Linked DNA regions of Homo sapiens. The protein of the gene in region 4 interacts with the protein of the main gene of each other region in a biochemical or structural test. Each region holds a gene or a part of one and is shown on either strand. Other genes may lie near its edges.

What was found.
Region 1: the proteins of ZSCAN30 (region 4) and FRMPD1 interact in a test that uses a peptide from one of them, tested with the Homo sapiens proteins (one large-scale study listed by IntAct).
Region 2: the proteins of ZSCAN30 (region 4) and LDB3 interact in a test that uses a peptide from one of them, tested with the Homo sapiens proteins (one large-scale study listed by IntAct).
Region 3: the proteins of ZSCAN30 (region 4) and FRMPD3 interact in a test that uses a peptide from one of them, tested with the Homo sapiens proteins (one large-scale study listed by IntAct).
Region 5: the proteins of ZSCAN30 (region 4) and FRMPD4 interact in a test that uses a peptide from one of them, tested with the Homo sapiens proteins (one large-scale study listed by IntAct).
Region 6: the proteins of ZSCAN30 (region 4) and PDZD2 interact in a test that uses a peptide from one of them, tested with the Homo sapiens proteins (one large-scale study listed by IntAct).
Region 7: the proteins of ZSCAN30 (region 4) and SNTG1 interact in a test that uses a peptide from one of them, tested with the Homo sapiens proteins (one large-scale study listed by IntAct).

Annotation. Positions count from the first base shown.
Region 1 is NC_000009.12:37,706,167-37,710,616, forward strand, and holds part of FRMPD1 (FERM and PDZ domain-containing protein 1), read left to right. Parts: intron 1-1,249; coding exon 1,250-1,407; intron 1,408-2,232; coding exon 2,233-2,335; intron 2,336-4,450. UniProt on the Homo sapiens protein: Stabilizes membrane-bound GPSM1, and thereby promotes its interaction with GNAI1.
Region 2 is NC_000010.11:86,677,561-86,682,010, reverse strand, and holds part of LDB3 (LIM domain-binding protein 3), read right to left. Parts: intron 2,645-4,450; coding exon 2,493-2,644; intron 1,930-2,492; coding exon 1,854-1,929; intron 576-1,853; coding exon 208-575; intron 1-207. UniProt on the Homo sapiens protein: May function as an adapter in striated muscle to couple protein kinase C-mediated signaling via its LIM domains to the cytoskeleton.
Region 3 is NC_000023.11:107,455,791-107,460,240, reverse strand, and holds part of FRMPD3 (FERM and PDZ domain-containing protein 3), read right to left. Parts: intron 1-4,450.
Region 4 is NC_000018.10:35,286,789-35,291,711, forward strand, and holds the start of ZSCAN30 (zinc finger and SCAN domain-containing protein 30), read right to left. Parts: upstream 3,442-4,923; 5' UTR 3,339-3,441; coding exon of another isoform or gene 3,296-3,338; intron 1-3,295. UniProt on the Homo sapiens protein: May be involved in transcriptional regulation.
Region 5 is NC_000023.11:12,144,070-12,148,519, reverse strand, and holds part of FRMPD4 (FERM and PDZ domain-containing protein 4), read right to left. Parts: intron 1-4,450. UniProt on the Homo sapiens protein: Positive regulator of dendritic spine morphogenesis and density. Required for the maintenance of excitatory synaptic transmission. Binds phosphatidylinositol 4,5-bisphosphate.
Region 6 is NC_000005.10:32,103,586-32,108,035, reverse strand, and holds part of PDZD2 (PDZ domain-containing protein 2), read right to left. Parts: exon of another isoform or gene 3,321-4,450; intron 1,913-3,320; exon of another isoform or gene 1,856-1,912; intron 1,749-1,855; exon of another isoform or gene 68-1,748; coding exon 1-67.
Region 7 is NC_000008.11:50,792,700-50,797,149, reverse strand, and holds the end of SNTG1 (gamma-1-syntrophin), read right to left. Parts: coding exon 4,321-4,450; 3' UTR 458-4,320; downstream 1-457. UniProt on the Homo sapiens protein: Adapter protein that binds to and probably organizes the subcellular localization of a variety of proteins. May link various receptors to the actin cytoskeleton and the dystrophin glycoprotein complex.

The DNA.
Region 1 (4,450 bases), on a different chromosome or scaffold from region 4:
TCATCTATTCATACAGATCCTAAATTTGCTCTAAGTCAGGGCCTGGGGGGGATCCTTGGTGGATAGTGTACACGAGACTTTGGACTTGTGCTTGTCACTTACATTTTGGCTCTGTGAGACAGTTTTTCATATTTCCGGATCCTTGTTGAAACTGGAGATCATTATAAATGAGAGGGAGATGATTTTCAGATAAGTGAGGGCCTATTGCATTAGGCAGGGTTCCTGAAAGTGTTTGGTAAATGGATGAGAATAAATGATAGACCTTAACCGCAGAGTCCCAAGACAGCTATTACTCCTTCACATTTCTGTTGTTCATAATGACAATAAACACCTCATCCCATCACTATTTGACCTTCCTCAGAAAGAACCACTGACTGTTAGAGGGAAAAATCATTTGCCACAGGTGAATGACAAATAACTTGTGACTCGCTTTGTGGTTTCTCTCTTTGAGAGATAGAAAATATTACTTTCCTGCTTTTAAGGAACATACATGTTTTAAAAGTTGATATAGAGGGAGTCCTTGCTATCTGAGATTTTATATTGGAAACCTTGCAGTTACAAAGCTTAAAGGGAAGCAAAATTCATCATAAAGAAACAAAGAAAAACATCACCAAAGACAAAATCTTGCTATAAAATTATCCGTCATCAAACATCTGAACCTGACAACTCCTTGTTTCTGCTCACCATCCATGTTTTTCCTCTCCTGTACCTCTGACTCCAGCAGTATGTCCTGCCTGGGATGCCCATCTGCCTGTTCTTCTGTCAGTCCGTCCATCCATCCATCCATCCATCCATCCATCCATCCATCCATTCATTCATTGATTCACTCAGCAGCAGTTATTGAATATCTTCTGTGTGCCAGGATCTGGGCTGTATAGGTATACCCTAGACATGTCTCAGAGTGCAGCTCAAATGCCACCTCTTCCAAGTACCAGATGCGTCCCTGATTCCCTATTCCCTGCCCTACAAAGGTGAAACTGCTCTCCCCCTTCTCTGTGTGTCCATAGCACTTCCTGGGCGCTTTCTAGATATTTAGCATTAGCTCATTAAGAATGCCTGGCAATACGACTTCTCTTTTAGAGGACAGTCCTAAGTTCTGCTAGTGGAGTTGGTGTCTTATTTGTCTCAAGAGGAGAATTGGTGTCTGCTCAGTTCTGCATCTTTCTCCATGATGCTTAGGGCTGACCCAGTTCGTGACCAACAACTAGAGTCTTCTCTTTCTCTTTTTTACATACTCCTTCTCTTCCAGGGCTAAAGTTGCTGCAGCTGATGGGCCCGCCAGGAACCCAACTCAGACCCTCATCCCTGTGCGACACACAGTAAAGATAGACAAAGACACCCTCCTCCAGGACTATGGATTTCACATTTCTGAGAGCCTTCCCCTTACAGTGGTGGCTGTCACAGCAGGTAGGGGATGACTGGGAAATGAGAAAGGAGTTTGGTTTCTTAAGGGGAAATAGCCCCAAATCTCCCCGATCTCTCTATCCTATAACAAAATGCAGAAAATCCTACCTGGGAAGTTAGAAAAGGCACACCTAATTCTGTCTTGGGCTTTGCACCTTACTTTGATGCTGGGAGGGAGGAAGCCTCAAGTGCACTTGCCGCTCCAAACCCCAGGCTCCCACTGGCCTTGGCTAGGGCGTTGCCCACCCTTGGCTCCCTGGCTGGTCTCAGGGGCAGTGAAAGTATTTGGCTAAGCTAGCCTTCCTCTTTGAACCCCACACGCTCCTAGCTGGGGATACTTTCTGGTCAGACAGTAATAGAAACCATTGATTTGTTTTCATTTGAACCTTGTGAAATACAGGCTGTACCAGGGTGGAGAGGAGCAGGTGGGGAAAGTCCAGTGCTTGTTTTCATAATTGAGGTGTGTTAATCTGGGATTCGTTAAAATGTATTGATTTCTATTTACTACACATACACACCAGAGTTTTTTAGAGATGAATGGAGTAGATTTACTGGCCAACTCTATTGATTTAGAAGGTTTCTGCTAGTTTTCTTTCTCAGGACAGTCTTCTAACATCCCTGGAAGTTGGTGATAGATGATAGGTACATTATCCATGGTTTATAAACAGGAAAATTAAGATCCACATGAGCCCAAGCCTGACTGAAGGCGGGGGAGTGAGCCAGTGCCCCTGGGAACTGGATCAGGGTGCCATTTAACTGTGCCGCTATTACACATAGAGTCTGGGTCCTCCCGGCATGAGCACCAATTACTTATTTTCTGTCCAACAGGAGGCTCTGCTCACGGCAAGCTTTTCCCTGGTGATCAGATCCTCCAAATGAACAATGAGCCTGCTGAAGACCTTTCCTGGGAACGAGCAGTCGATATTCTCAGGTACTAAATGGTCTTCCATCATCTACAGAATTGCACAGATTATCAAAGAACAAAGATGGGCAACAGGAATGGCATAACTGATCCCCTGATTTTAATAAGGCTAAGTCTCCTTTAAAGCAGCAAAAACAGCCTCGTTTTAGAGTTCCATCTATTAAAACGGCTTCTTGTTAGTGGCTGTTACAGTCCACTCTCTCTCACTTGCCTACAAAAGAGCTTGGGAGGCACAGAGTGCTGTATTTGTCAAAGCCCTGCTATGCCCAAGACACCGTGCTAAGCATGCAGGGAATGTAATGATCATAAATAACCCACAGGCCCTACCCTCTAAGGATTTATAGGCACGTTGTAACATATGCCAAAGATTGAACTAAATTGATGCCAAATCTGTTCTTCTTTATCCCTCTTGATATATCTTCTTAAATATAATTGCAGGTGCATCTTGGTTGGCATATATGTAGTTTCATTGATGTAGCACCTCCAAACCTTCTGTCTGGTGTCATTGTGACTTATGAAAATGCCTCGCTTTTTACCTAGACAATGATTTCCTGAGACCAGGGCTCAGTGGGTGCTCAGTTAAATGAGTGAATATGGTTAGCGCTGGGAATTGGCAACCCAGACTTTAAGACGGAGGAGTGCCATTGATAGGAGTGAAGAGGACAAGCAGACATTTTAAGGGCACATGAAGCTTTGGCTTTTAAATTTTTCACTCAACATTGTTCTAATGACTAGTATAAAGACAGACGAGAATCAGAGGTAGATGAAAGCTAACTTGAAGAGATATATATATATATATAAAATTCAGTTTGTGATTTTTCATGAATGGCTGATCTGGCTTTGGGGTGGTATTAATTGTTTTTTTTTCCCTTTTTTTTTGAGATGGGGACTTGCTGTGTTGCCTAGGCTGGTCTCAAACTCTTGGGCTCAAGTGGTCTTCCCATCCCAGCTACTCGGGTGGCTGAGGCAGGAGAATCGCTTGAACCCGGGAGGCAGAGGTTGCAATGGGCCACGATTGTACCACTGCACTCCAGCCTGGGTGACAGAACAAGACTCCATCTCAAAAAAAGAGAGAAAGAAAAAGAAAAGAAAAGCCAAGGAAATACACTGTAAATGCTGGAGAGTCCTCCAACTTGGGCAGAAGTTGTAGGCTGACAAAACAGAGAAGGGCCCAGAAATATTTCAGTTGTGTCTTTAATGCTGGGTAAAATTTGGTCCAAAAGATGGAGGTGAAGGGTGATTCAGGCAAAGAGGTAAACAGAAGCAACTGGGTGGGAAGTAGGGGCTGCTGAGCAGTTCAGTTTGCCTGCAGAAAAGTTCTAGGAAGTGAAGTCCAGATGATAGAAGGTCTTGAATGCCAGCACAGCATGTTTCAGTGTGATTCTCCCCCTGGAAGGGCGAGCAGTTGAAGGCTTCTGAGCAGGGATGCATGACTTGAGGTGTGCTGTGCATCTGTACCCTCTGCTGTCTTTTGCATGTGAGAATCCCAGGACGCCTTACTTTTTTTAAGCTTAGTTCCCAGTGTCTAAAACCAGCATGTATTATTCAGTGTCACGTGTAAAAGGTAAAACACAAAGCAAAACAAAAAGATACAACAACAATGCCAAGAAAACATCTCAAATTCCTCCAAATAGCTATGAGGCCAGTATGTCCTTTTAGAGCACTTGCATTTGGGTTTATTGTGATTTATCTCAGAAAAGGCCTGTTCTCATTTAAAATGGAAAAGAGGAAGTCCCTAGACACTTAGACATCTTGGGTTGAGTTTATCCTTTTGAGGAAATAACACACCAGCAGCAATTGGCCTAAATGTTCATATTGCAAGAAGTCAAATGAAATTATTTTGCCAACTGCTTCTCCATGGTAGCAGTGGCAAAGAGAAAGGAAAATATGATCGATTTTCTCTGTTCTGGCCGCTAATATAAAGTAGAGGTCAAGCAGTTATCTGCTTGATTTGATCACTTTTGAAATCTAAGAGATAATGCAAGACAAAGATGTCTACTATCTTGATTATATGATTGGGCTCATTACACCGACTTTGTGTGCCCAAACACCATAAACTCTTTGGCTTTTATCTGATAAACGTTATCCACAGACATTCATTCTGTTTAGTGAAATGTTTAGCCT
Region 2 (4,450 bases), on a different chromosome or scaffold from region 4:
CATGTCACCCCAGCGTGGTTGGTTGTATAAATCGCTAGCATGCCCGGCTCATGGCAAATGCCGCAGGATCACTGCTGACCTCATGGGCTCGGGGCTGGCTGGATTGGGGCCAGTGCCTCGCTCTGACCACCTGACCAGGTCTCTGCCGAGCACCGAGGACCCAGGTGGCCCAGGCCACCTGTGGAGAGCTGTATGTCCGTTACCTACCCTCCTGGGAGTCCGACACCCGAGGCCTTCCCTCGGAGGCTCATCTGGTACATCTGAGCCATCTCCCTCAGGGTCTCTGCCGAGTACAGGCCAATGGGGTTGTTATATTGCCTCGGCTGGCTCGAGCCCGGCAGGGCTTTTGGGCCGAGTAGGTCCCGGGCCCCCTCTGGGCTGGTCTTGGCCCTCAGGCTGGCCCGCGGAGGGCCAGGGTCAGAGGCCTCGGCGAGTGAGGAGAAGGCGGAGGGCCGGGAGAAGGCAGGGCTAAAGGTGGGCCTGAGCTCCGGGGTGCCTGGGGTGCCTGGGCTGGCCCTCGCCTCAGGGCTGGGGCTGGGTGCCACCAGGCTGCCGTTCGTGTCCAGAGCGGGGTCCTGGCACAGGGCAGGCCATGCAGGGGAGAGAGAAGAGAGCGGTTAGAGGCCACACGCGTCCCAGCGCTCCTGCGTGGACCTGAAACAGATGTGTTAGCGCGAGCCCCGCAGCCTGAAGCCCAGAGCGCCTGGGCGCAGCACTTGGAGGGGAGGACACTGGTGGAGGAGCAGGCAGGCACATGGCTCCTGGCCTGGCGTGAGGCTGGCATCCAGCTGGGCAGAGTGCCAAGCCCTGCATGGAAGCCAAGCCAAGCTTCCTGCCCCCAGGGCCCGAGGAAGTGGGTGTAGGGGTCAGGGGATGGCCCGTTCTGTGTCTGTTCCCCCTGCCCCTGAGAGTGGGTGCCCAGTGGGCACAGCCCAGCCTCCTGCTCCACTGACCCCACACTGCCAGTGAGATGAAGTTCCTGGGCTGGTTGTGGGCAGGTGGTGGGGAGGTGAGGAGGGAAGCTGAGGAATTGGGTAGCTCACATTTGGGCCCCTCAGTCTACCTCTGCAAGCATCTCCCAAGCAGCCCTCCACCCACTTCCCCAGTCTGTGACCTACCCCACCCCTGTCAGCCTCTTTTTCTCCCCTCTCCCCACTGCCCTGCCCAATCTGCCCCATTGGACAGGTGGGGTCACTATCAGTTCACATAGGGGGAGAAGTTGAGCAGGGAGCCCTCGGGGGTTGAGCTGCTTGGCGGGGCCTTGGGAAGGGCCTAGGCAGTGGTGAGGTCTGGAGCCAGGGCTTGGCCTCCCTTCTCCCCTGTGCCTGCCATTGCCAGCACGTCCTAAGGGCTACAGGGGAATGCACTTGGGAGGGGCAGGTGGGGAAGTGGAAACCAGAGGGAGAGATCTGGGTGAGGCCAGCAGGCCCCTCCACACCTGGAGGTCCTCGTCAAGCTGGGCCTCAGCCACAGTCACCCAGCGGTGGCCCCCTTGGCAAATGAAGGTCAGAGCCTGGACGCTCGTCCCCTGCCTGGCCAGGAGGGTGACCCCTCTCCTGGGAACACTGCTGCCCAAGCTGGCTTCCTATCAGCCCAGCCACGAGGCATAGCGGAGGTGGCTTGCACCCAGGCAGGCATTCATTCCCACATCCAGTGTTCAACAGGGGCTTGAAAGTCTCTCCCAAGGGGCTGCCTCACTTCCCCAGGGTCAGCTGCAGCAGGGGCAGGGATGGGGCAGGGCTGATCCCACGGCCTCATCCCAGTTGGGCCAGCCAAAGACCAGGCAGGCTGGCCAGGGCCAGCACTCCAGGAACCAGGGCTGAGTGGACCCCGCCGCCACAGTCAGCACCTACCTTCTGGTGAGGGATCACCGGCAGAGGGGTCTGGACTGGAGGTGCTGTCGTGGAGATGGGAATGGGACGCTTTGATCTGTAGAAACCAGAAATGAGACCAGGTGAGGAAGTTGCCCCTGGGGCCAGAAGCTCCTGCCTGGGCAGGGCTGGTGAGGAGAGAGCAAGAGAGAGCCAGAGTCAGCTCTCAGAGATAGCTGAGTCAGAGGGCCCCAGATCCACTGTCCACCCCATGGGCTGGATCTCCCCAAGAAGGCCCTGGGCCCGACGAGGATGGAGAAATCATGGCCCCTGGGCATTTTGGTCAGAATCCATGGGCCCCTGCTACGTCACTGGGGGCTGCCTGGGCAAAGTGGAAGTAGGTAAGACCTGCCTTCCAGGACCAATGGCCCACGTACGGGCAGCACCAGGACCACCATCTCTGCCTTAACTGTAAAGTGAGGCAGTAATGTCTGCCTCTAGGTGCTTGACAGCGACTTGGGCCTGTTCATTCCTCTGGCCCAGGGCTGTCCTTATCTTCCTGCACAGTTTTGTAGCCCAGGGCGGGGCCCACTCAATTGCTATGGGACAATCCCTCTTTTGGCCCCTGCCCCATGCCCACACCCAAACCTCCGCCCCCTGCTCTGGAGAGCTCCCACCTACTTCTGCAGGGTGAGGCTCAAGTTGTAGCTGGCAGACTTGATCTTGTTCTGGGCTTCCAGGTGGGTCATGGTGTCTGTGTTGACGCCGTCAATGGCCACCACGAGGTCACCCTGGCTGAGCTGGGACTGGGCTGCCTTGCTGCCTGGTGTGATCTGATTGGATAGTGGAGGTGGGGGGTGAGCATAAGGAAGGTGGTCCTGAGGAAAGGCCAGTCCTTGGGGAAGAGTCACCCGGGAGTATTCAACAGAAGCCGTCATTGTGTTTTTCATTCGCTACGGCCAGTACCAGCTGCTAACCAAGCCTAGTTCCTCTTTCCGGCACATGACTACCACATTGCTTAGAGCTTTGTGTCTGACTGCAGCCTTGGGACTAGCTCTGGCCAACTGAATGAGGGTGGAAGCAATGTATGCTCCTTCCAGGTCTGCCTCTAGCAACCATCCTTGTGATCCTGCACACTCTCTGCTTGTTGACTGACTGAATGCAGGGCATGGAGAGGAGGAGAGATGATTAAGGAGCACTGTATTGGACGTTGCATGAATGAGAAACTTTTGTTGTTCTGAGCCATTAAGGTTTGGAGGCTGTTGGACATGGTGGCTCATGCCTATAATCCCAGCACTTTGGGAGGCTGAGGTAGGAGAATTGCTTGAGGCCAGGAGTTTGAGGCCAGCCCAGGCAAAGGAGCCCAGACCCTGTTTCTACAAAAATAAAAATATTTGGCAGGGTGTGGTGGTGCATGGCTGTAGTTCTAGCTACTCAGGAGGCAGGTGAGAGGGTCACTCCAGCCTAGGAGTTTGAGGTTACAATAAACTATGATCGCTCACCACTGAACTCCAGCGTGGGTGACAGAGGGAGACTCTGTCTCTTAAAAATTTGCAGGCATCTGCTGGGCGTGGTGGCTCACGCCTGTAATCCCAGCACTTTGGGAGGCCAAGGTGGGTGGATCACAAGGTCAGGAGTTCGAGATCAGCCTGGCCAATATGGTGAAACCCTGTCTCTACTAAAAATACAAAAATTAGCCATGCCTGGTGGTGGGCGCCTGTAGTCCCAGCTACTTGGGAGGCTGAGGCAGGAGAATTGCTTGAACCCAGGAGGCAGAGGTTGCCGTGAGCTGAGATTGCACCACTGCACTCCAGCCTGGGTGACAGAGGGAGACTCGGTCTTAAAAAAAAAAAAAAAAAGGGTGGCCAGGTGTGGTGGCTCATGCCTGTAATCCCAGCACTTTGGGAGGCTGAGGCAGGCAGATCACCTGAGGTCAGCCTGGCCAACATGGTGAAACCCCGTCTGTACCAAAATTACAAAAAAAATTAGCTGGACATGGTGGCATGTGCCTGTAGTCTCAGCTACTCGGGAGGCTGAAGCAGGAGAATCGCTTGAACTCTTGATTGAACCCAGGAGGTGGAGGTTGTAGTGAGCTAAGATTATGCCACTGCACTCCAGCCTGGGTGAGAGCGAGACTCTGTCTAAAAACAAACAAACAAACAAAAAACTGCAGGCTATTTGTAACCTTGATTAGCCTCTTATAACCCCTGCACCCTGCAAAGCTATGGAGCACTTTTCAGACTCCAGGAGAAAAGGGAGATGCAGCAGCTAAGACACAGCAGCATCCCAGAGACACTGCCAGGCTGAAGGGCAGGATAAATGCACCCACTCAAAAGCATCTTAGTGCCAGGTGCTTTGTGCTACCTGGCAGATGTGGAGAGAGTGAGGTAGCCGACAACCCTGCCTGGATGAGCAAACTCAGCTGGGAAATGGGGCAGGGCTTAGGGTTCTGTAGTTGATGTCATACCTCCAGAAGGCAGGGTGCAGGTGCGGGGGCCAGTTCCCAAACCCTGAGCCCCGATAATACCACAGAATGTTACAGTCTGGAGGCCCCATCTTCAGTGTAACCACACAGAATGCCACTGCAACTCCATCCCGGGAATTCCCCATGGAATCTCAGGAAGGCCACACCTCCTGGG
Region 3 (4,450 bases), on a different chromosome or scaffold from region 4:
AGAGATCTTGACACTTACCTGGTTGACTCCTAAGCCAGTTGTTGCCATCATGCCCTCTTCTTTCTGCCTTAAATGGGTTTTTCCATCAGAAGGGTAGTAAACATACAAACTACCCTAGTCAGTGACTTGCATTCTCTCTTCTCAATCCTTCACCTGCATAAGCATTTTCCACTCTGGACACCTGCCTACTTCTTAGCCACCAACCACCACCCCTGCCTCAAATCTGCAATCAGAAGACTTTACAGAAATCAAAACAGAAATCTTTAGCAGGGAAGTGCTGGAGGCCGCTGATTGACAGACTATGCAGAGTGTGTGTGTGTGTGTGTGTGTGTGTGTGTGTGTGTGTGTGTGTGTGTATGTATGCTTGCGTGCACGCACGCACACACACGTGTGTTCATCCACCAATCTAGCCATCTGTTCCTCTGTTTTCCCAGTGGGTTTGGATCAGAAGCAAGGAGAAGCCTGTTTGATTGGGTGGTCCTGCCCTCAGAGCAGAGCTCCCTTGGCAGTTAGGAGCCCACAGCCTGAGCAGAACTACTGTACTCATTCATCTTTACAAGGCATCATATGCTCCCACAAGAAGAACAAGTAAAAGGAGACTAAAATCTCACAAATATCCCTTTATCTGCAGTTCTCTATTTCCCTCCAATCCAGGGCTGGCAGACCTGGCCCAGACACCTATCCAGGGCTGATATTCAGTGGATTGGGTGGGGAGGGGAAAGTTGGTGGGGGAGGCAATTTAGCAGGCAGAGGCCCTGGCCATGACTCTCCCATCAACCTGTGGACTCCTCACTTAGTTTCCTTATACCAGCTGCAACAGGGCTCCAGCTGGCATCAAAGTGCTGTGGTAGCTCTTGCCATACTCTGGCACAGGTGTGACCTTCACTGAGATGATTCCCAAGTGCTCAGAAGAGTTTTCAAACTGATTCTACCAGGGAAGTTGAAAGATGTTTCCTCACTCTTACCAGCTCTCAGAAGCCTTGGGGGACTTGAAACAGACCAGACACAGGCATCGCCTGCCTCCGGCCTCCCTGTTGGGGGATGTAATACTCAGCACCCCAGCTTGGCTATCATCTCAACTGCATTCTGCAGCCAGATTCCTCATTGCTCACTCTTTCAGGTCATGGTACTGAAGGCCCCTGTGCGCATCTACTTTACTTGGAAAGGATAACTGATTATAATGCCCAATGTTATCTTAGCTCCAGAAACTCTGCCACCTTAAGGTCCTGAGGGCATGAGGCAAAGAAAGTGTAAGTATTGAGGCTAAGAGGAAGGAGCGAGTGAGACAAAAACAAGTCAAGAAAATCTACTTGGTGGTTTATCAGCCACACCGATGCCTTGAGAGCCTTTTGGATTTGACCCTCCTCTCTATGCCCACTGCCACCACCCTTATCACCTCTCACTTAGATTGCTGTAGTATCTTATAGGCTGGTCTCAAGTCTCTCCCTATTCCAATCAATTCTGCTTCCAACTGCATAGCTAACCATCCTGAATCACTATGCATAATTGTCCGACAGCCCCCAAGGTTTACCCAAGTCCAAACTTCTTCTGACATCAGAGACTCTTCAAATCTGGGAGTCCCATACCCAGCCAATCATTTTTTCCCCACTGTGCCTGCATATACACCCTCTCCTCTAGTCAGACTTCTTTCTGACCCTTTCTTGATAACACCCTGACCATTTCCATCTCCAGCCTTTTCCCTATGCTGTGCCTCCCCCTCAGAAGCCTGTTCCTTTTCTAGTCAACAATCTCAATCTCACATGTTACTCAAAACATAACGCAGGTTCAACTTCTTCTGGGAAGACTTCTCCCCTCATTCCAGCCCACACTCTCATTCTCTCTGTGCTTTGAACCCCTACAGTGCTTACTGTTTAGAGCAAAAAAATGTGGCACATAATTGTTTTCCATCTTGTATTATTCTTAGTTACTTCATATGAATGAGTATTATTTTTCTGTTAAATTACGGATTTCCAGAGAGCAGGGCCTTTGCTTTCCCCTTCTCACCATAACATTAGTACAGGGCTAGATCCTGGAGTGGTCAATAGACTTCTCTTCCCATGCCTTAACTCCAGTATGAAGGAAGGATGAGATAAGTGAAGCCCGCTAAGGATCTCCGCTGTTCATTCCCTCACCTTTCTCAAAAGATGTTCCAGACGGCAGAGGAGCTGAGGCTGCCGAGTGAGACATAGGCAGCCAATCAGCTGTCAGATCCTAGCTTTCAGAACACTCCCACCTCCTAAGGTTTTCTGGGCAATCAATAACGCTACTTAAGTGATCAATCTGAGGCACAATGGGCTGTAGGGGCCAGTGTTTGATTAACTTGAGAGAATAAATGTACGCTGGAAGAGAAAGAGCAGGGAGGGGGGAGCAGAAGAAAAAGCAAGAAGAAAGATGAGCTAGGGGAAGGAAGAGAGAGAAAAGCCTTTATGAAGGAGGGTATGATGGGATGGAGCTGAGAGTAGTTCTCACCTAATCCAATTCAACGAGTTAAGCAAGTTCCTACTGAGGTGTCGAAATAATCTTGGGGCTTTGTCAGAGTCCAGTGAATATCCCAGGGCTTTTAGGCAATTTTTGACTTTGGCAAGAACACTGTTGCCATGGTCCACTGAGGGTCCACACAGCCTCCATATTGGGTGGAAGAGTGGGTGTGGGATAGAGACTTCAGCCAATATCAAGGAAAGACATGGATCTTGAGCTATGCTCATTGGCTGTGTCTAGAGAAATCCCAGGTTCTGGCATCCTACACTCTCCTACCCAAGCCTGATGACTCAGAAACCCATGATGATATGGGACAGTAGGCTCATCTGCAAGGGAGATATCAGCATTACCTTCTCTCTATCCAGAATTGTATATACTATCCTCCCTCTCAAGGCCCTGGAGCTGGAAATTTAACTATTTGCAGTTAACAAAAAATACGGAGTCCCTTTCCAAATGTTTTCCAAACATTATCAAATGTTTAGCTATACCACGAATCAAATTTTTTTCTGGGAAAGATAGTATTATCTGGAAAAAAAAAACAGAGCAGATGGCCTCTTACTGTGAGAAAGTGAGAAAGTTCCTCCTTTAATCTAACCATGATACCTGCTGCTCTCATTAAAAACTCATCCTTCTCATAGGATGACATTGGTACCCTCCTGGTTATGCAGGCTCAAAGCCTTAGAATCATCTTTGACTCTTCCTTCTTCCTCACCCCACGCATTCAATTGGTAGGTAAATCAGGTTTCCTCTACCTCCAAATACATTCACCCATCTTCTTTCTGTCCCCAACCAGCTATGGTAACAACCGGCTAACTGGTCTTCCTGCCTCCAGAATGATCTTGTTTTAATCATTATGCCAAAGCGAGAAAAAAAGAAAAATGAGCTTGAATCTAATCAAGCCCAGAGCTAACTTCCATTTATAGAAAATATAGGGGATAGGTGAACAAGCTAACTGGCAATAAGAGGACAAACCAGAATGTGGGAATTGTGCAGAGCAAACAACCTGATTTCTGTGACAAGTCAAAGAGAGAGGGCTGTTGAAAGGGCCTTTAGAGACATAACAACCAAATGTCACGTGTGGAACTTTTTTGGAACGTCCGTCAAACAAGCCAACTGTAAAACATGTTTTGAGACAATTGAGGGCATATGATTATGGACAGGGTAATGGATAATACAAAGGCATTATTGTTACTTTTGTTAGGTGTATTAGCAGTTCTGTAGTTATGTTAGAAAATGTCCAGTTTTTAAGAAATGCATAGAGAAATATTAGGAATAAAATGATGTGATCGATGTTTGGCATGATAGGTGAAGCAAACATGGCAAAGTCCTGATAACTAGTTAATGTGGATAATGAGTATGTGGGGGTTACTATACTATTTTCTCTAATTTTTTTGAGGTTGAAAATATTTATAAGAAAAAGTAAAGACAGGCTGGGCACAGTGGCTCATGCCTGTCATCCCAGTGCTTTGGGAGGCTGAAGTGGGAGGATTGCTTGAGCCCAGGAATTGGAGACCAGGTTAGGCAACACAACAAGACCCTGTCTCTATGAAACACTAAAAATTAGCTAGCAACTCGAGAGGCTAAGGTGGGAGGATCACTTGAGCCCAGGAGTTTGAGGCTACAGTGAGCCATGATCATGCCACTGTACTCATCTGGGCAACGGAGTGAGACCCTGTCTCTAAAAATAATAATAATAATAATAATAGTCATCCACTATACCCACTCTATCTTCCTAGCCTTATCTTCCATTCCTGCCCTATTTCTCTATGACACAGCCACCCTACGTACTTGCTCAAGTTTTTTCCAGTCTGAACTTCATCCCTTCACTTATTCATGAAGTCATTCATTTGAGTAGTCAACAAATATTTATTAAGTATCTCTTCTATGCACTAGGCACTGTAAATTCAAAGATGACTGAGAAGGAGAAGGACAGGAAGCCTCCTTCATCTTTTGTATTATCCACAGCAACTAG
Region 4 (4,923 bases):
TTTTACTTCTTCTTTTCCAATCTGAATGCCTTTCTCCACCTCCCTTTGCCTGCCTTACTGCGCTGAAAATAAGAAAGGCATCCAGATTGGAAAGGAAGGAGTAAAACTGATCTCATATGTAGAATATCTGATAGAATCTACAAAAACAGCTACTAGAACTAATAAATGAATTTAACAAAGTTGCAAGATACAAGATTAATATACAAAAATCAATTGTATTTCTCTATTATATTACCAACAAACAATCTGAAATTAAAGGAAAAATACAATAGCATCAAAATATATTAAATACTTAGGAATAGATCTGTCAAAAGTTATGAAAGATCTGTAAAATATTAAAAAGAACTATAAAATATTGGTGAGAGATATTAAGGAAGACCTAAATAAATTGAGAAAAATATTGTGTTCATGGATCAGATGACTCAATATTGCTTTAACATGTCAATTCTCCCCATATTGATCTACAGATTCAATCCAATCCCAATCAAAATCTCAGATAGCTTCTTTGTAGAAGTTGACAAACTGATTCAGAAATTGATATGGAAATGCAATGGGCTTAGAATAACCAAAACAACAAAATTAGAGGTCTCACACTACCTGATTTCAAGCCTTATTATAAAGCTAGAGTAATTAAGTGTGGTGTTGGACTAAAGAGACAAGTAGATCAATGAAAAAATAGAGAGGCCAGAAATAGACCCACACATATATGGATAACTGATTTTACAAAGCTTAAAGGAAACTCAGAGGAGAAAGAAATGGTACAGAACAACTGAATATCCACATACCAAAAAAAAAAAAAAAAAAAAATTAACTTTACCCTAAATCTCAGAGTTGTATGGGTAGAAACAAATTAATTCCAGATGGATCAGAGACCAAAATGTAAAACCTAAAAATCCTGGAGGAAATCTTGGTGAACTTATTTTAGGCAAAGATTTCTCAAATATCATACAAAAAGCATGATCCATAAAAGAGCCAATTGATAAACTGTGCTTCATCAAAACTTAAAACTGATGCTATTCAAAAAATATTAACAGAAAGAAAACTGAAGGCACAATATATTTGCAAAGCATATATCTTCTTCCTCTTCTTTTTTTTTTTTTTTGCAACAGGGTCCTGCTCTGTTGCCCAGGCTGGAGTACCGTGGCATGATCACCACCCACTGCAAGCTCCACCTTCCAGGCTCAAGCAATCCTCCCACCTCAGCCTCCCAAGTAGCTGGGACCACAGGCACACACCACCACATCCGACAATTTTTTGTATTCTGGGTGGAGAAAGGGTGTCACCGCGTTGCCCAGGCTGGTCTCCAGCTCCTAGACTCAAGCAATCCACCCACCTTGGCCTACAAAAAGTGCAGGAATTACACGCTTGGGCCATGGCACCTGGCCACAAAGCATATATTTGACAAAAGACTAGTGTCCAGAATGGACGAAAGATTTGTACAGATACTTCACCAAAGAATATATACAGATGGCATATAAGCACATTACAAAATGCTAAATATTATTAGTCAGTATGGAAATGCAAATTGAAACCACAGTGAGATACACAGTGAGTTGGTAAGGATGTGGAGGAACCGGAACTCTCATGTACTCATGTTAGGAATGCAAAATGATACAGCCACTCTGAAAAGTAGTGTGGGTTTTTTTAAACATTAAATGTACATCTACCATGAGAGAGGGGGAAAAAAGCATATGTCCATATAAAGACGTGTGTACATGAATGTTCTCAGCTTTACTTGTAACAGTAAAAACCTGGAATAACCCAAATGCCCATGAACTGGTGATTGGATAAACAAACTGTGGTATATACATACAATGGAATATTATTCAGCAACAAAAATTAACTATTGATACACACAGCAATAAAGATAAATCTCAAAATAAAAGCTTAGTGAAACAACTCTGACAAAAACAAGGACATTCTGTATGATTCCATTTAAATAAATATCTAGAAAATGCAAACTAATCTCTAGTAACAGCTGACCAGTGGAGGGGGCATTGGGAGAGAGGCTTACCAACGGGCAGGAGGAAACTTTTGGGGTTTAGATGTAATAAACATATTATTTTGATTGCAGTGATAGTTCCACAGCTGTATTCATTTAACAAGCCTTATCAAATTATATCCTTTAAATATTTGCTGTTTATGTCAGTTATACCTCAATAAAGCTGTTTTGTTTTGTTTTGTTTTGTTTTGTTTTGAGACAAAGTCTCGCTTTGTCACCCAGGCTGGAGTGCAGTGGCGCAATCTCGGCTCACTGCAACCTCCGCCTCCTGGGTTCATGGGTTCACGCGATTCTCCTGACTCGGCCTCCCAAGTAGCTGGGATTAAAGGCGCACACCACCATGCCCAGCTAATTTTTGTATTTGTAGTAGAGACAGGGTTTCACCTTGTTGGCCAGGCTGGTCTCCAACTCCTGATCTCAGGTGATCCACCTGCCTCAACCTCCCAAAGTTTTAGGATTACAGGCCTAAGCTGCGCCTGGCCAAAAAGAAAGCTGTTTTTTTAAAACTATCTGCACTCCCTACTTGGGAGGGTTGGACTCAAGTTCCCACATCTCTTTCCTCTTACGGTTATATTAAGGGCTTAGTCATACATCCCTAAATTTCATATATCCCAACAGGGACTTGGGCTGGGACAGGAAGCCCTCTTCCTCCACCTCAACTACCACTTAGCCACCCACCATTTTCTCAAACCTCTTCCTTTCCCCACCGGACAGCTTAAACCAAGTCACACGTCTCATTGGTCTCAACAGAAATGAGGTCCCAACTCCTCATTTCCCAAGATATTTCCATGAACACAGCAATATCCTTTCCTACCCTGATTACCCCGCACCCTCCATTTCGGGTCCTTCTCACCCTGATCAGTGAGAATTGTTCTAGCAAGCAAACCTTAAATAGACCTCGTACCCTTTCTAGATTGCAAAGTAGATAAAAATCCAACTTTCCGTTAATTCAGGGATTAATTACTGAGCATCACTTATTTCTTGGGCAGTGGTTCTCAAAATGTGGTCCCAGGACCAACAGCTTCAGGATCACCTGAGAACCTGGGCTGCCACCGCCCCCTCCCCCACTACTAAATCAGCAACTCCGGAGTTGTGGGGCAGAAGTCAGTATTTTAACAAGGCCTCCAGGTGATTCTGATGCGCGCTACTCTTCTGGGGGTGTGAAAAACCAGAGAGGACAGGAAGAAAGTTAGAATTAAAGCATACCTACGAATCAGATAAGCGATAGGGGGAGGGGTGGTTATTTAAAAAACGATAACTAATTAAGAACTTGTATGTAGTAAGAAAACCTACCCTGCCCCAGAGAGCTTTCCCGAAAGATAATGGATTCCGACATTCACCTCAAGAACCGGCAGACAGAGCAGCAAAGGATCTGTCGCTGGCCAAGCAGGTCCCTGGCTAAGGCACTGCTAGGGACAGCTCGCGGCGGTTCGGGGGTTAATTCTCGGCAGCCCTCCGTCACCCGGTGCCCCACCCCCGCCCTGCGCCTGCGCGGTGAAGCGCCATAGAGCTGAGCACTCCTCCCAGATTCCTAGAGCGGACAGGGCGATGGCAGGTTCGCCGGGTGTGAGGCTTCACAGCGGTCCGGTGACCAAGTCGAGGTAAGGGTGATGTCGGCTCGCGGATAGCAGAGGAGTTCCGGGTGATCTTGCCTAACGAGCAGGAAACTGTGCATGGTTTCTCGAGTCCTTGGAGAGTGAAGGCCCCCGGGGTCGCTCCCGGGCACGGAGAGACGATTGGTTCACGGCCTAGTGTTCGGTTTGTTCCCAGTCAGCCCTTGCTGGCCTTGGGTTCAACCGAATGAACGCCAGAAACTCTGTGGGGTGGGGGGAGTCACCAACCGTGGTGCATCCATACGAATCAGCCTACCGTACTGGGAAAGAGCCACCTGAATTTGTGAATGTTGTAAAAGCAAAAGGAAGAAAAATGATCAGTAGTGTCATTTTTGGATAGGAAGGGCAGCGAATAACATAGTGTTAACCACTAGAATTCACTGTAAAATTCCCCTCTCTGCGTTATCTTTCCAGTTATACCTTTTTTTGGTAGCATTAACCCCTAATTTTGTTTGAACATCTCTAGACTTGGAATGGGGAATGTGTGTCTTAAGTGGGTTAATCCCTGGCTCTTGGATGATGGGGAGGAAGCCTAATACATTCTGAGAGAAAAGCAACTGGAAGTCAAATGAGATTTTTTGTTTTCTCCTTCTTTTATATCTTGAGGATTTTTCTGGTGGTCTAGTCTCAGAGATTACATCTGTAGTCAGCACAATGATTCCCTTCCAAGCCCAGTGGTGCCCAGTTGCCTCCAGGTCCCAGACCTTTATGTGGACAAGAAAAGCTTACAGAGGAAATGGTAATTCTCCACTTGCACACTGAGGTGTCCAGTTGCAGCCCATGGAGATCCAGTTCAATTATGAATCTCAGGAACACCACCTTCTGTCAGGTGAGAGGCAGGGTATTATATCTTTCTTAGTGGCTTTGGCGGGGTGGGGAGGATGAGGGGGTGTCACTCTATGCTAGTGTCTTCAAATGATCCCCCTTAACTCTGTTAGGCAGTATTACCTCTTTAGTGTACCAAGCATAGTCACATGACTTTATTTCAAAATCTGGCGATCAAATTCTCATGCAGCTCTCTCCACTTTTTTAAGACCCCAAAGTCATTCATTTTTCCCTGTATAATGACCTCATTGCTAATCTGTCAGTTTTGGTCATTTTTCTTATCTACTGTAGGGGCATAGTTAAAAGTTCTGGAGTCTGACAACCTAGATTCAAACAGTAGTTTTGTCACTTAACTGGCTCCAGTAAGTTACTCATATATTTTACGATTCTGTTTCCTCACTTTTCAAGTGCATAGTACTTCATACCTTGAAGTTATTTTGAGATTTGTATCTATGTATTACTCCAGAATAAAGAACCCCAAAA
Region 5 (4,450 bases), on a different chromosome or scaffold from region 4:
TATGGAGACAGCATCTTTCCTTAAGCCTCACAAACTAATCCCTGCTAGCTTCAAACGTTTTATCTGCAGCTTCCTCACTTTTCTCAGCCTTCGCAGAATTTAAGAGAGTTAAGAGTCTTGCTCTGGATTAGGCTTTGGCTTAACGGAATGTTGTGGCTGGTTTGATCTTCTATCCAGACCACTCAAACTTTCTCCATATCAGTAATAAGGCTGTTTCACTTTCTTATCGTTTGTGTGTTTCCTGGAGTAGCACTTTTAATTTCCTTCAAGAGCTTTTCCTTTGTAGTCACAGTTTGGCGAACTGTTTGGCACAAGAGGTCTAGTTTTTGGCCTATCTCAGCTTTCAACATGCCTTCCGTACCAAACTTAATTATTTCTGGCTTTCAATTTAAAGTGAGAGATGTACAACTCTTCCTTTAACTTGAACACTTGCAGGCTACTGTAGGGTTATTAATTGGCCTGATTTCAATATTGTTATGTCTCAAGGAACAGGGGAGCCTGAGGAAAGGGAGAGACATGAGGGAATGGCTAGTTGGTACAGCAGTCAGAACACACACAACATTTATCAATTAAGTTTGCCATCTTATATGTGTGGTTCATGACAGCCCAAAACAATTGCAATAGTAACATCAAACAATTCCAATAGTAACATCAAAGATTACTGATCACACATCACCATAACAGATATAATAATAATAATGAAAAATATGACACAGAAACACGAAATGAGCACATGCTGTTGAAAAAATGGTGCTGACAGATTGCTTGATGTGGAGTTGGCACAAACCTTCAATTTGTAGAAAGTGCAGTATCTATAAAGCACCAATAAACCAGAGTGCAATGAAACAAGGTATCCTTAAATCTACTATAAACCAAGGAGGTTTAATACCAGGGGATTTGCCCTTGAAGAGTTCATAAATGAGACACAGATCAAAACTGGACTCAATTATAATACCATCTATACCAGTCAGCCATTGCCACAACAATGCTGCATAACACAGTGTCATACAAGAATAAGCATCTGTTTTCATGCTCACAGGTTTGCCTGATGGTGCTGGTCCATGTGAATCTAGCTTCTAGGACCAACAGGTTAAACTAGGCAGTTCTTCATATAGCAATGTTAAGAGCTTTTTGCTTTTTTACATTCTTTTTTAGAAACGTACAATACCTTAAAGGCATTCTCCTACCAAAAACTTGTACCAAAACAGATACCCTGTGACTTCTGTCCATATTCCACTGGCCAAAGCAAGTTACTTGGCCAAGCCCAACAGCAATGGGGCAAAGAGGTACCCTCTACCTCTAGGAAGTAGAACTATAATGTCACATGGAAAAGGCTTGGATTCAGGGAAGATTTAAGAATTGGGAACAAAATTACAATCTACCACACAATGAAGAAATGTTGTGAAAAGAGCAGGGCATGACATGTCCAGCACAGATAGGGTACACAGTGGCACTAAACTTCCCAGCTTGCCTCACAGTTACATAGGGTCAGAGTTCTGCCTAATGGAATGAGGGTAGAATGGTATACTTTGATTCTGGGCATAGCCCTTAAAAACCTGTCACCCAATCTTCTACCATTCTCTCCCCTCATCTGTCAGCTGAACACTGATGTGCAGGAAACCTTCGATAGCATACTGAAGATGAGATAGTCCTATCTTACAGGTTCTCAGAATGGCTGAGCATATCAGAGCTCCCCCACACCATCAGGAATGCCTGTTTTGTGTATCAAGCAAACAAGAGATGGGCCACAAAAATTGAGGGATTGATCTGTTAAAGCAGTGAAATTATCTTCGCTAATAAAAGATGTCAGTCGAGCTATTTAACCCAGGATTGGGAGGTTGGAGAAGGTGACATGGAACAACCTTAGATTAAAAGCTGAAATATAAAAGACAGATAGGAATTTTTCAGGTGTAAAGGAGGCAAGATAAAGATTGTTCCAGACAAAATGAAGAGTTTATGCAAAGGCTCAGGGTGTGGCACTTTTTAGGACTTCTAAAAAATTCAACATGGTTAGGGGTAGATGTGTGTGTGTGTGTGTCTCTGTATGTGTGTGTATACACGTGTGTGTTTGGTGTTGAGTAGGAAGTTAAGGCTGGAAAGGAGGAATAACAAGTTCAGAGAAATATGGTTCTCTTTTTCTTTTCTTTTTTTTTTTGAGACAGAGTCTCGTTCTGTTGCCCAGGTTGGAAGCACAGTGGCGCAATCTCAGCTCACTGCAAGCTTCGCCTCCCAGATTCAAGCTATTCTCCTGCCTCAGCCTCCCGAGTAGCTGAGACTACAAGCGCCCGCCACCACGCCCGGCTAATTTTTTTGTATTTTTAGTAGAGACGGGGTTTGACCGTGTTAGCCAGGATGGTCTCGATCTCCTGACCTTGTGATCCGCCCACCTCGGCCTCCCAAAGTGTTGGGATTACAGGCGTGAGCCACCGCGCCCAGCCCGAGAAATACAGTTCTCAAAGGAACCAAGTGAATCAGGCCAAACCCAAAAGGGTAAGGATAAAGAATATGGATTTTCCCCTCAAAAGTATGTAGACGGAGGGGACAGGGAGGATCCAATTTGCACTTTACAAAGCTTCTAAGTTAACCTACAAGTGGTATTGTAAGTGCTGACAGTTTAAGTCCCCCAGAGCGGGGCTGGCAAGGGTGACTGTGTTCAGGGTGAATCTCCAACCATATCCATCCTTCCCCCTGCTAGTAAAGAAGGCTGACACCCAGACTGCCCCAAAGGGAAATTTGAGTACTGGGCAGAGAGATCAAAGAAGAACAGTAAAATACCCATGTAAAGGGCAGAGAGTAAATATTTTAGGCTTTGCAAGCCATGTGGTTTCTGTCACAGCTATCCAACTCTCCCAAGAGCAGCCACAGTATACAAACAAAAGGGCATGGCTGTGTTTAAATAAAACTTTATTTATAAAAATGGTCATAAAGCTTTCTAAAATAAGTAAACACATCAGATGGGTTAAGTTTGCCAGCCCTGGCCCTAGGCCATGAAGCAGGACATCGCCCTGAGCCACAATTCAGTTGGGCATGTTTGGGATTTACACCAAAACTAATTCCAGACTCCACCACTGTATAGCTGAGACTGCTAACTGCTCCTGTACTAGGGTAAAGACCGGTGACTTGGATCGTGAACTTCAAAAGAGACAAATATCCAGGACTCCAGTTACAGGAACCATTGTAAAATCACCATGGTCAGTATGTTATCCAATGTTGAATCAATACAACAGCCTTGAATCAGCCAGATGGCCGCGTGTTCTCCCCCACACCAGTCTCTGACCAGATAAATAACTGTGCCAGTTCAATAGAAAAATACACTCATTCCTACATTCATTAGGAAAATTTTACCATTAATTTTATGAACTTTTGCCTACTGCTTTCTTTGAACCTCATCTTTGTCAGGTAATCATGTTCTTATTTTCAATTAAGCAAATCTCATAAAACTTGTGAAGCCTATAAAAAATAACCAAAATAAAAATTAAAACCCTATAGTAAATTGTAATTGCAGGGAAATTACTTTTCATTTTCAAACTTTGGAAACATTTCTTTCATAGAAATGATTGTGTTTTCCTAGCTTTCAAAAAAGACTTTCTAAAATAAAAACTTACTGACATCTATAAAAACCCATTTCAATATCATCATAACTTTGCTTATTGAGCTTAAAGCAGTAAAACAGAGACTCCTTGGAAATACAAGTTGATGACTTTTTAACCATCAATCACCAAATATATATATTATATTTTATATATATAATATATATATACTTCAAATGTAAAAACAGAAATAAAAGTTTATTCTCTGAGACCAAGTCCAAGAGCAGGCTATTTACTTTTAACATGTACATTGTATTCCGTTATATTCAATAAAGAAGTACTGACATGGTAATTGTTCAGCTAAACAAATATGACAATTTGTTTGCAACAAATGTTAGAATGAATTGTATATGACTTCACTCACTAATTATTTAGTATAGACTATTTATCTTATGCCAAATTCTGTAAACCATACTTGAAAATATATTTCTGAAAGAACAGTTCTGGCAGAAAACCCTTCTCATCTCTTTGCCAGGAAAAAAAAAAAAATGGGAATGTTAACTTTGTTATCTAAAACTAAGGCTTAGATTTCTTCAAGATAATTTTCAGAGCTTAAGTACATAATGACCTAAATTACTCAGAAGCAAGGCAGCATACTTTTGATATATGTTTTTGCTGTAAAGAACTAAAGGTAGTCTATGATTTCTCATTATAATGCTCTCAGTCAAATCATAGGAAAGTTAGATTAAACTCAACTCCAAATTGATACAGCCTACCTCCATTCCTCTGACTACAACTAAATCCACTTATCTGGTTTTATTTCCATTTGGAAACAGATTAGTGAAGGTCATTAGCCATTAGGACCAGATGGCTCAAGTGTACTGTAAGGAAATACTAGGCATTCTCCTGTTGACTTGATT
Region 6 (4,450 bases), on a different chromosome or scaffold from region 4:
GGTTTCCCATTAATAGCAAGAATTTCATCTCCAGCTTCTATTATTCCAGCTTGTTCAGCCGCACCACCTACGAGAATAAACACAGAATAATTAATAGCTTGGCAGTTTCATAGTATTCAAAAATCCTAAGTAAACTAAAAACTTTTAAGTGATAAAAATATCTAAATAATATATTATTGAATAGAGAAATATTTCTTAGAACACAAAAAGCATATATCCATAAAAGTAAACTGGTCTACAGAAAACAGTGCAACTCTAGCCCTCCTGCCGCCCCTCCAAACATAATCTGTAAGATAAAAATAAACTGACAAGGGGAAGATACTCTCTATGTATTTAATCAACAAATGGTTAACATCCAGACTAAAGAGCTACAAGTCAACAAGAATAACACAAAATAAAGTTGGGGTAAGGAAATCAACAGCTGAACTCCAAACAGCCAGTAAACACAGAAAAGCAGGTTCAACTTTTTTTGTTGTTGTTGAGACGGCCTCACACTGTCACCCAGGCTGGAGTGCAGTGGTACAGTTTTGGCTCGCTGCAGCCTCCGCCTCACTGGGCTCAAGCGATCCTCTCACCTCAGCCTTCAGAGTAGCTGCTACCACAGGCATACACCACCATGCACAGCTTTTTTTTTTATATTTTTGGTAGAGATGGGGTCTTGCCATGTTGCCCAGGCTGTCAGCTTCTAATTGTTAACAGATTCTGGCTGATATATGCAAGTTCTGAGAATCAGTGATTATGTGCTCATTAGTGACCATGGGGACTACTTACTTACAGAGTTTAGCATGTTCACATTATAGCTTTGTCTAGCTTTGTATGAGCTTTGAAAAAAATGCAAGTGTAAACCCTCCATTTACGTTCTCACACATATACTTCTAAAGGTACACCAGCTATGGAGGCATCTTATGGAAAAAAAATGGCATTGAAAGAAAAAGTCCCAAGTGTGAAAAAAATTTTCTCAGAAATTTTGATTAGACCTCAAAAGACTGAGCAGATGTATCGATTTCATCCTAAATTACTGAAAGTCGTTATTGAAATTATTGAAATAAATATTATGTGATAAAAATACAGCTTGGAAGAAATCCAGCCCACACAAGGACAAAAACATTTTCTGTGGTAAATGATAGAGGCAGTTAGTTACATTAGAAGAGAGACCTCACCAATATCAGCCCTGTAGTGGGCCCCAGGAAAATGATTTGGTCCCTAGTCCTTGCTTTTCTTGAGATAGATACATTTTTGGAAGGACCAAAGAACCAATTATATTTGTGTTAACTTAGTACCCAATGTCCTATTCTAGCATATTAACCGAAGGCCTTCAGGTTATGTGAAACAAAAGAATTTTGTGAGTGTTCACCTGGGCTTCAGGACATGGGAGGTTCCAGGCAACCAGAACAGCCTGACGCACACTGAAGGAGCAATCAGACTGGGTTTGGTCTCAAATCTGTGACTTCAGGCAAGTTACAGATTTCTCCAAACTCCAGTTTTCTCATCTGCAAAATGGTGATGATGATATCTGTCTTGTTATCTTACTAGGTTGTTAGAAGGACTGAATGAGATGAAGTAGAGGAAAGTCTTCTAGGACAGGGGTCCTCAACCCTTGGGCCACAGACTGGTGGCAGGAGGGCTGCACAGCAGGTGAGCAGTGGGTGAGTGAGCAAAGCTTCCTCTGTTCACAGCCTCTCACCGTCACTCACACTACCACCTGAGCTCTGCCTCCTGTCAGATCAGCAGCAGCATTAGATTCTCACGTGAGTGTGAACCCTATTGTGAACTGCATATGCGAGGGATCTAGGTTGCATGTTCCTTATGAGAATCTAATGCCTGATGATCTGTCATTGTCTCCCATCACCCCCAGATGGGATGCCTGGTTGCAAGAAAACAAGCTCAGGGCTCCCACAGATTCTACGTGATGGTGAGTTGTATAATTATTTCATTATATATTAAAATGTAATAACAGAAATAAAGTATACAATAAATGTAATGCACCTGAATCATCCTGAAACCATCCCCCACCCAAACCCTCACCATGGAAAAATTGTCTTCCACAAAACCAGTCCCTGGTGCCAAAAAGCTTGGGGACTGCTCCTTTAGGAAACATTCAGTGTTGTACAAAGCAGAGGTTTGCCAGCTTTTGGACTTTTTACACAAGAGAGAAATAAATTCTCTCGTTTAAACCACTGCTATTTTGGATTTCCTATTACATGAGGCCAAACTGAATCTTAACAGATTTGAGCAGGATATGTCTCTCTCTCCATTTACTCATAGATTTTTTAAAATTGTCCTTTAGAAAGCTTTTATGCTTTTTCCCAAAAAGGTCTTGCATAGCTTTTGTTGAACACATTCTTAGGTTCCTTATGCTTACCATGAATTGGTGTCACACAGTGCACAATCTGCATTTGGCTTTTTTTCATTCAACACTGTTTTTGAGCCGGTCCCAGTTAGTATATAGAGAGAGGTGTAATTTATTTTTTCAACTGCTATTTAGCTTTCCTTTAGATGAATATATTTTATTCTGCTACAGATAGAAATTTAAATTGTTTCATAGCTTCCATTTTCGTAAGCACTGCTAAAATTTTCCTTAAAGATTAACCAGTAGATACTTGCACGAGAAAAAAAATGTGTTTTCCTTTCTCCACATCCTTGCCAACACATCATAGTATGAGATTTTTTATTTTTGGCCAACTTGATAGATTAAAAGAATGATTTATAATATTTCTAATTTTCATCCAATACATTTAAGTTTGAGCATCTTCCTGTGTTTCTTGGCCACCTAGGTTTTAACTTCTGTCCATTTGCTATTGCTTTCTTTACCCAAACTTTCTCTCTTGTATTTTTCTTACTGAATTATATAGTTCTTCATATATTCTGGATTGATTGATTGATTGATTGATTGTTTTTTTTTGAGACAAGGTCTCCCTCTGTCACCCAGGCTGGAGTGCTGTGGCACAACCATGGCTCACCACAGCCTCGACCTCCTGGGCTCAAATGATTCTCCCACCTCAGCTCCTGAGTAGCTGGGACTATAGGTGCGTGCCGCCACACCCGAGTAATTTCTGTATTTTTTGTAGAGGTGGAGTCTCGTCATGTGGCCCAGACCGGTCTTGAACTCCTGGGCTCAAGTGATCTGCCCACCTTGGTCTCCAAAGTGCTGGGATTACAGGTGTGAGCCACGGTACCCTGCCTATTCTGGATATCAACCCTTTGTTTATTAAATATATTGTAAATATCTTCTAATCACTTACTTTTGAATTTGCTTATAAATTTTGCCATATAATGAACATTTTATATGTTTTTTTTTTTTTTTTTTTTTTTTTTTTTTAGATGGAGCCTTCTCTGACCCCAGGCTGGAGTGCAGTGGTGTGGTCCTGGCTCACTGCAACCTCCGCCTCCTGGGTTCAAGTGACTCTCCTGCCTCAGCCTCCTGAGTAGCTGGGATTACAGGCATGCACCACAATGCCCAGCTAACATATTTTTAGTAGAGACGGGGTTTCACCATGTTGGCCAGGCTGGTCTCTAACTCCTGACCTCAGGTGGTCCACCCACCTTGGGCTGCTTAGGAGGCTGAGACACCAGATTCACTTGAACCTGGGAGGCAGAGATTGCAGTGAGCAGAGATTGTGACACTGCACTCCAGCCTGGGTGACAGAGCTAGACCCTGTTAAAAAAAAAAAAATTCTTTATTATTCAAATGCTTGTTCTGTAATAACCTTACTCAAAGAAATCAGTCTTGCTATATTGTTTTCTAATGCTTGAGCTTAAAGACACAGGAAAACAAAATGAACAGAAAACCTGTACTCATGAAATTTGTAAATATGAAATACGAGATAAGGTGAATCCTGACCTCAAGTGATTCGCCTGCCTTAGCCTCCCAAAGTGCCGGGATTACAAGCATGAGCCACCATGCCCGGCCAGATAATGACATCTTTAGTCTCACTAGTTTCCAAAGGTGGGATCTGCCGTATCATACTCAGAAATACTTGAATGGCTTTCCCCAAGAACAAAACCACAGGCTTGCACACGAGAGCATCTAAAGCGCTAGTCTGTGGGACTGACAATTTTCTTCTTCTCTATCCATTTCCATAGCAGTTTTCACAGATTTGTGGCCAGATGCTAGAGACAAAGGCTGAGAAGTTGTCCAGGACGTCATATTCTTGCTTTGCTGGAGGCAGATCTGAAGGATGTCATCTCTCCTGTGGCTTCTTCTAGTGTGGGGTCCCGAAGCCTGGCTTCCCCAGCCGATGTGCTGCTTTAGTCAGCGTCTGCCCTGGTCCTTCGGTTCGCAGGCTCACACGCTTTTTTGGGTTGTGTCCCTTTGGACTGCAGAGGCTACGTGTCCTGTGACCAACCACGAAGGCGGCCACTCCCGCTCCCCTCAGGAGTGTCTTAAAATACCTCCATTTTAGCTACCCTATTGAATGACAGGTTAGCTGGGTGCTGGGTTTTCAGGTGA
Region 7 (4,450 bases), on a different chromosome or scaffold from region 4:
GTGTTAAACAACAATTTAGTGTTAAATTGGAAGTTTCAACCAGTGTAATATGGTAGGAAGCCAAAATTAAAACTTACTTAATAAAAAGGAAGAAATAAAACAGACTCTCTTGTAGATGGCATGGATGTCAACACAGAAAATCTTAATCTACAGAAAGGGCACTAGAATTGATAAATTACAGTGATATCAAACGTCATATTTTTCAGAAGTTGTAACTCAGTTGGGTAAGTAATTTGACAAATCCTATCTTTCTTCAAACTTTGGGAACATTTGGGAGTTAGATGTCTATTCTTCACAAATATTTGTCAACCAGAACAGATTATGTACCACATAGTCTGCACTTATATATACACAGTTCATATCTTAAACCTTTTCATTGAAGTTAAATCTCTCAGGATCTTGTTTTAAACATATGTAAAATCCTTACAAATCAAACCCAAAGAAATGAAAACCCAAATCTAGTAAAAAGTATTTGTTTTTATTTTCCAGTATGCTTCATTTAAAAAAGTATGGTTTCATTAGTAGTACATTAATGAACTGAAAGAATGAAGTGACAAATTTTTGTCACAGATATTAATTTACATTTTACAAACATCCACCAAAACAATTAAAAATGAAATAAATATATTTACATTTTATATTTCTTGTCTTTTCACTGCATTTTAACATGTATAAAATATATAACATTTATAATATTTTATTTTCAAAAGCAAATTCAAATGTGCAAATAAGTGGCATTATGATTTTAAAGTATTCGGTAGTAAGAATAAACAATAAAGAACAATTTTAGAAGTATGAATAAAGCAATTTCATAAGGAGAAATTATGAGCACAGCAATATTAATAGTAGCAAAATCTTTGTTATTAGTATCCGAACATCTACACTTACCTTAAAAAGTTAAGCACAAGATCATCCTTGTGCTTTTAAAGCTTCTCCACACTGCTGATTTCTAGCAGTAATTCTAAATTATCGTTAGGATTATTAATTTTTCTCAGTAATAAATCAAGCTTTTCTTAAATCCAGCATTCAACATAGACAAAGTTCATGATCAAGCTTCAGCACTGTAAATGAGGGAAATGTTGATCTATAAACTAATGCACCCAAAGGAAAATTTCTCTCTTTGCATGGCTAATATGGACTTGACATTTATTTTCAAGTAATTGCTTTCTTTTTCTTGCTGAATGACAGCTTTATGAGCGAAGATTTCAAAATTATAAGTTGGTACATGCCTGAAATATGGGCAAGAAATAATTACCTGATTATCCTCCCATTTTAAAAAAGCTGGATAAGTGTTCAGATATACATTACACTTACACTATCTATTAAACTATTTTTTAAATAAATACTTGTTGCATTTTAACAAATTATAAATGCCCTTTCTGTAATATACTTCGACTTAGATGAATTGTTATTCTTTATCAGGCAAAAGACATTATTATAGTAGTTAGCAGTTTTCAAATGACTTTGAACTTCATTCTCTGACCTAAATACCTACAATATTCTCCATTAAGCTTGTGTTATGTACACTGTAATGAACCCTTTAATGATAACACTTACACACTCACACACATACACAGACACACACCCAAACACACATACACGCTCACACATACCAAGGCACTGGAGGGGTTAACACATTAGCATTTTGCTGTTAAAATGTGCTTAATGTACAAACTAGGATTTTATGAATAAATCTCTTACATGTAAACCTAAATTATATGAGAGATAGAAATTTTTAAGTGTTTTTGTTCATTTCAAAGCTTTCTCATTCAAGTAGTCCAAGTTATAACAAATGCCAATGACTAATCACCACATTGTAAAGAAAACATTAAATACTAATTGTTAAACTGATGAAAACGAGAATAGTATTTTGTTACTTTTTGGCTGTTGTACTAATCATGTTAAATAAAAATCACGGCTTATGTTTTTTATCAATAGTATCAAAAATATTCATAATGGTATTGTCATAAGTTTTTAATCAAGCTACATTTTACAACGTAATTTAAAGTATATTAAATGTATGTACACAAAACATTCTTCTAATATAATTAATGGTCAGCATTTCATTATATTTATATATATATACACCCATGTATGCATATAAATACATATGTAGGTGTGTGTGTATTCTCTGAGGAGATATATATTTATACATATCTCATTGTGCACCTTTTCCTTCGTAACACACATGAGCATAGGCTAAATTTTCATAATAACACTAAAAAGATAGCTAATGGTTAATAGGTTTTTTAAATTCTAAAATGGAACGTTTACAAAATTTCACAATTTTTAAATCATTCTATTACAGGTAGGTAAACTGTTGAAACGTTTTTCTTTTGCTTATGGATAATTAGCCCATGTCATATTGCCTTCCAGATTGTGGACACATTCATGTAACCCCAATATGGGGCACACTGAGATTCAGCTCTGGTTGGAAGCAGAAGTTCCATAATGAACCACTTGCCACAGCTGAAAATTCTAAGTTCGATGTATCCCACTGCTTTTTCTCCATAAGTTCAGAAGTGGCCTACTACTGAAGGCTGCTTTTGGTGGGTTTCAATTTTACAATGACTGTTGTATTTGATCAATATAGTGTGCAATAATTCTAAAGTTCTATCCTAATTACAAATGTGTACTTAGTTTTACGGTCAAAATACATTACACTGAAACTGTTTATTGTAATTTGCCACAGTTCTTTGGGTAAGGTATGTTAGATTCAGTTTAACATTTTCCCAGGGACAATTATAAACCCTCACTTTTTCTTTTCAATTTGATGTATTTACAAATTAATCTGATGCAAAATAAATTAATGAATCATGAGTATAAAAACAACTTGATATTAATTTTTTAAATTAGTAAATCTGTCCTTTATAGAAATCACTTTGTTTCCTTCTTGAGTGATTTTTAAAAACATATTTGAAAAAAAAAATTGAATCAATTTATTAGATACTTGGTTATCTCCACAAGGACACACATAATACTTGGTTTACCTGGGAGCATGTGTATCAATAAAAATTTTTTTTTTTTTTTACATACACAGCTGACTTTTTAAAATATCTCAAAAAAGCTGTACTGAAGGACAGAGACTGTGTTCCATGTTATACAACTAGTTGAATAATACCTGGAATCTGAGTAAATTGCACACCTCTAAGGCTTTCAAATTTCCCAGCCTTTCACATTTACATTCTTAGGACAAAATACCTAAAACAACCTGCATAGTTGGCATTACTTAATCACTTTCCATGACAAGGGAGGTTAAAGAATTTTAACTTTTATCTTTAAATATCACCTTTGTTTCTCATAAAATAGTACTAAAATGAAAAAATGTCATTTAATTAACATCTATAATAGCTTTGGGACTGTTTTCGGGGGACATTTTAGTTCATGATTAACTAGTAGACTTCGGATTACAAAGAATTGTTTCTCACACCATATTTGTTTATATTATTTTCTCTACAAAAGGTTTTGGGTTCACTGAAAATTTATGAAACTTTAATTTGATAATAAATCTTATTAGGTAAAATACAAATCTCTTTCAAACCAAGGAAGAAATGAGAGGTTCATGAAATTTTCCATCACTCATAATTAAATTAATACACTGTTGGCATATTTGATTGACTTTGGCAGCTAATAAGACATTTCAATAACAGTGATCCAAGGGAGAATAGTCCATTTCACATTGTATCTATCATGGGTCAATGTAATTATCCTTTGGAAGTTCTTCGGAATATTTACAATAAGATAAAAACAATTGGAATGCCAGTGTCAAATCATGGGATGAGAACACAAGGGCAAATTTACATCAGCAAATTAAAGTGCATCCTTCTTTGATGAGATTTTTTTGCATGCTCCTTGCTGATTTATGGTTTTTAACTCTTTTATGTCCCTCATAATACAAGATAGGGCATTTGTTTTCCTATGACTCTGCCCAACATGTACTAGTCATACAAAATAATCTAAAATACAGAAGTAATCATTTAATAAGTATTTTTATTCATAGGTAGCTTACTATTTTTATGTTATTTACATACTTCTTCAAATAATTTATTCTTTTGTCTCCACTTTTGGTGAAAGCAATACACTTACTGGTACAAAGCAACTGAGTGAGAACAAGCTGTTCTGTTCATGTAGTATATTTCACAGATGTCATCCAGAATAGAAGTGTTTTTGAGGTTCCACATGACCTTCTTTTTCTGCCGAAATTTTGATTTGCCTCCACTGTCGACTTGGTGATGTTATGGTTTCTCTAGGGTCTAAAATGATGAGTAAATGTGTCCTGCTTATACAGTCATGGGGTGTGTCAATGAAGAGTTCAGTATGTCAAGTTGTATACTTTGCTTTGCTCGTGGTAGCAGAGCTGGCAGCAGTAGAAGCAGTAGCTTGATTGCCTAAAAATAGAGGGTCCAAACAAGCTACCTTGGCAGCAAAGAAGGAATGAATGCAGTGAAGA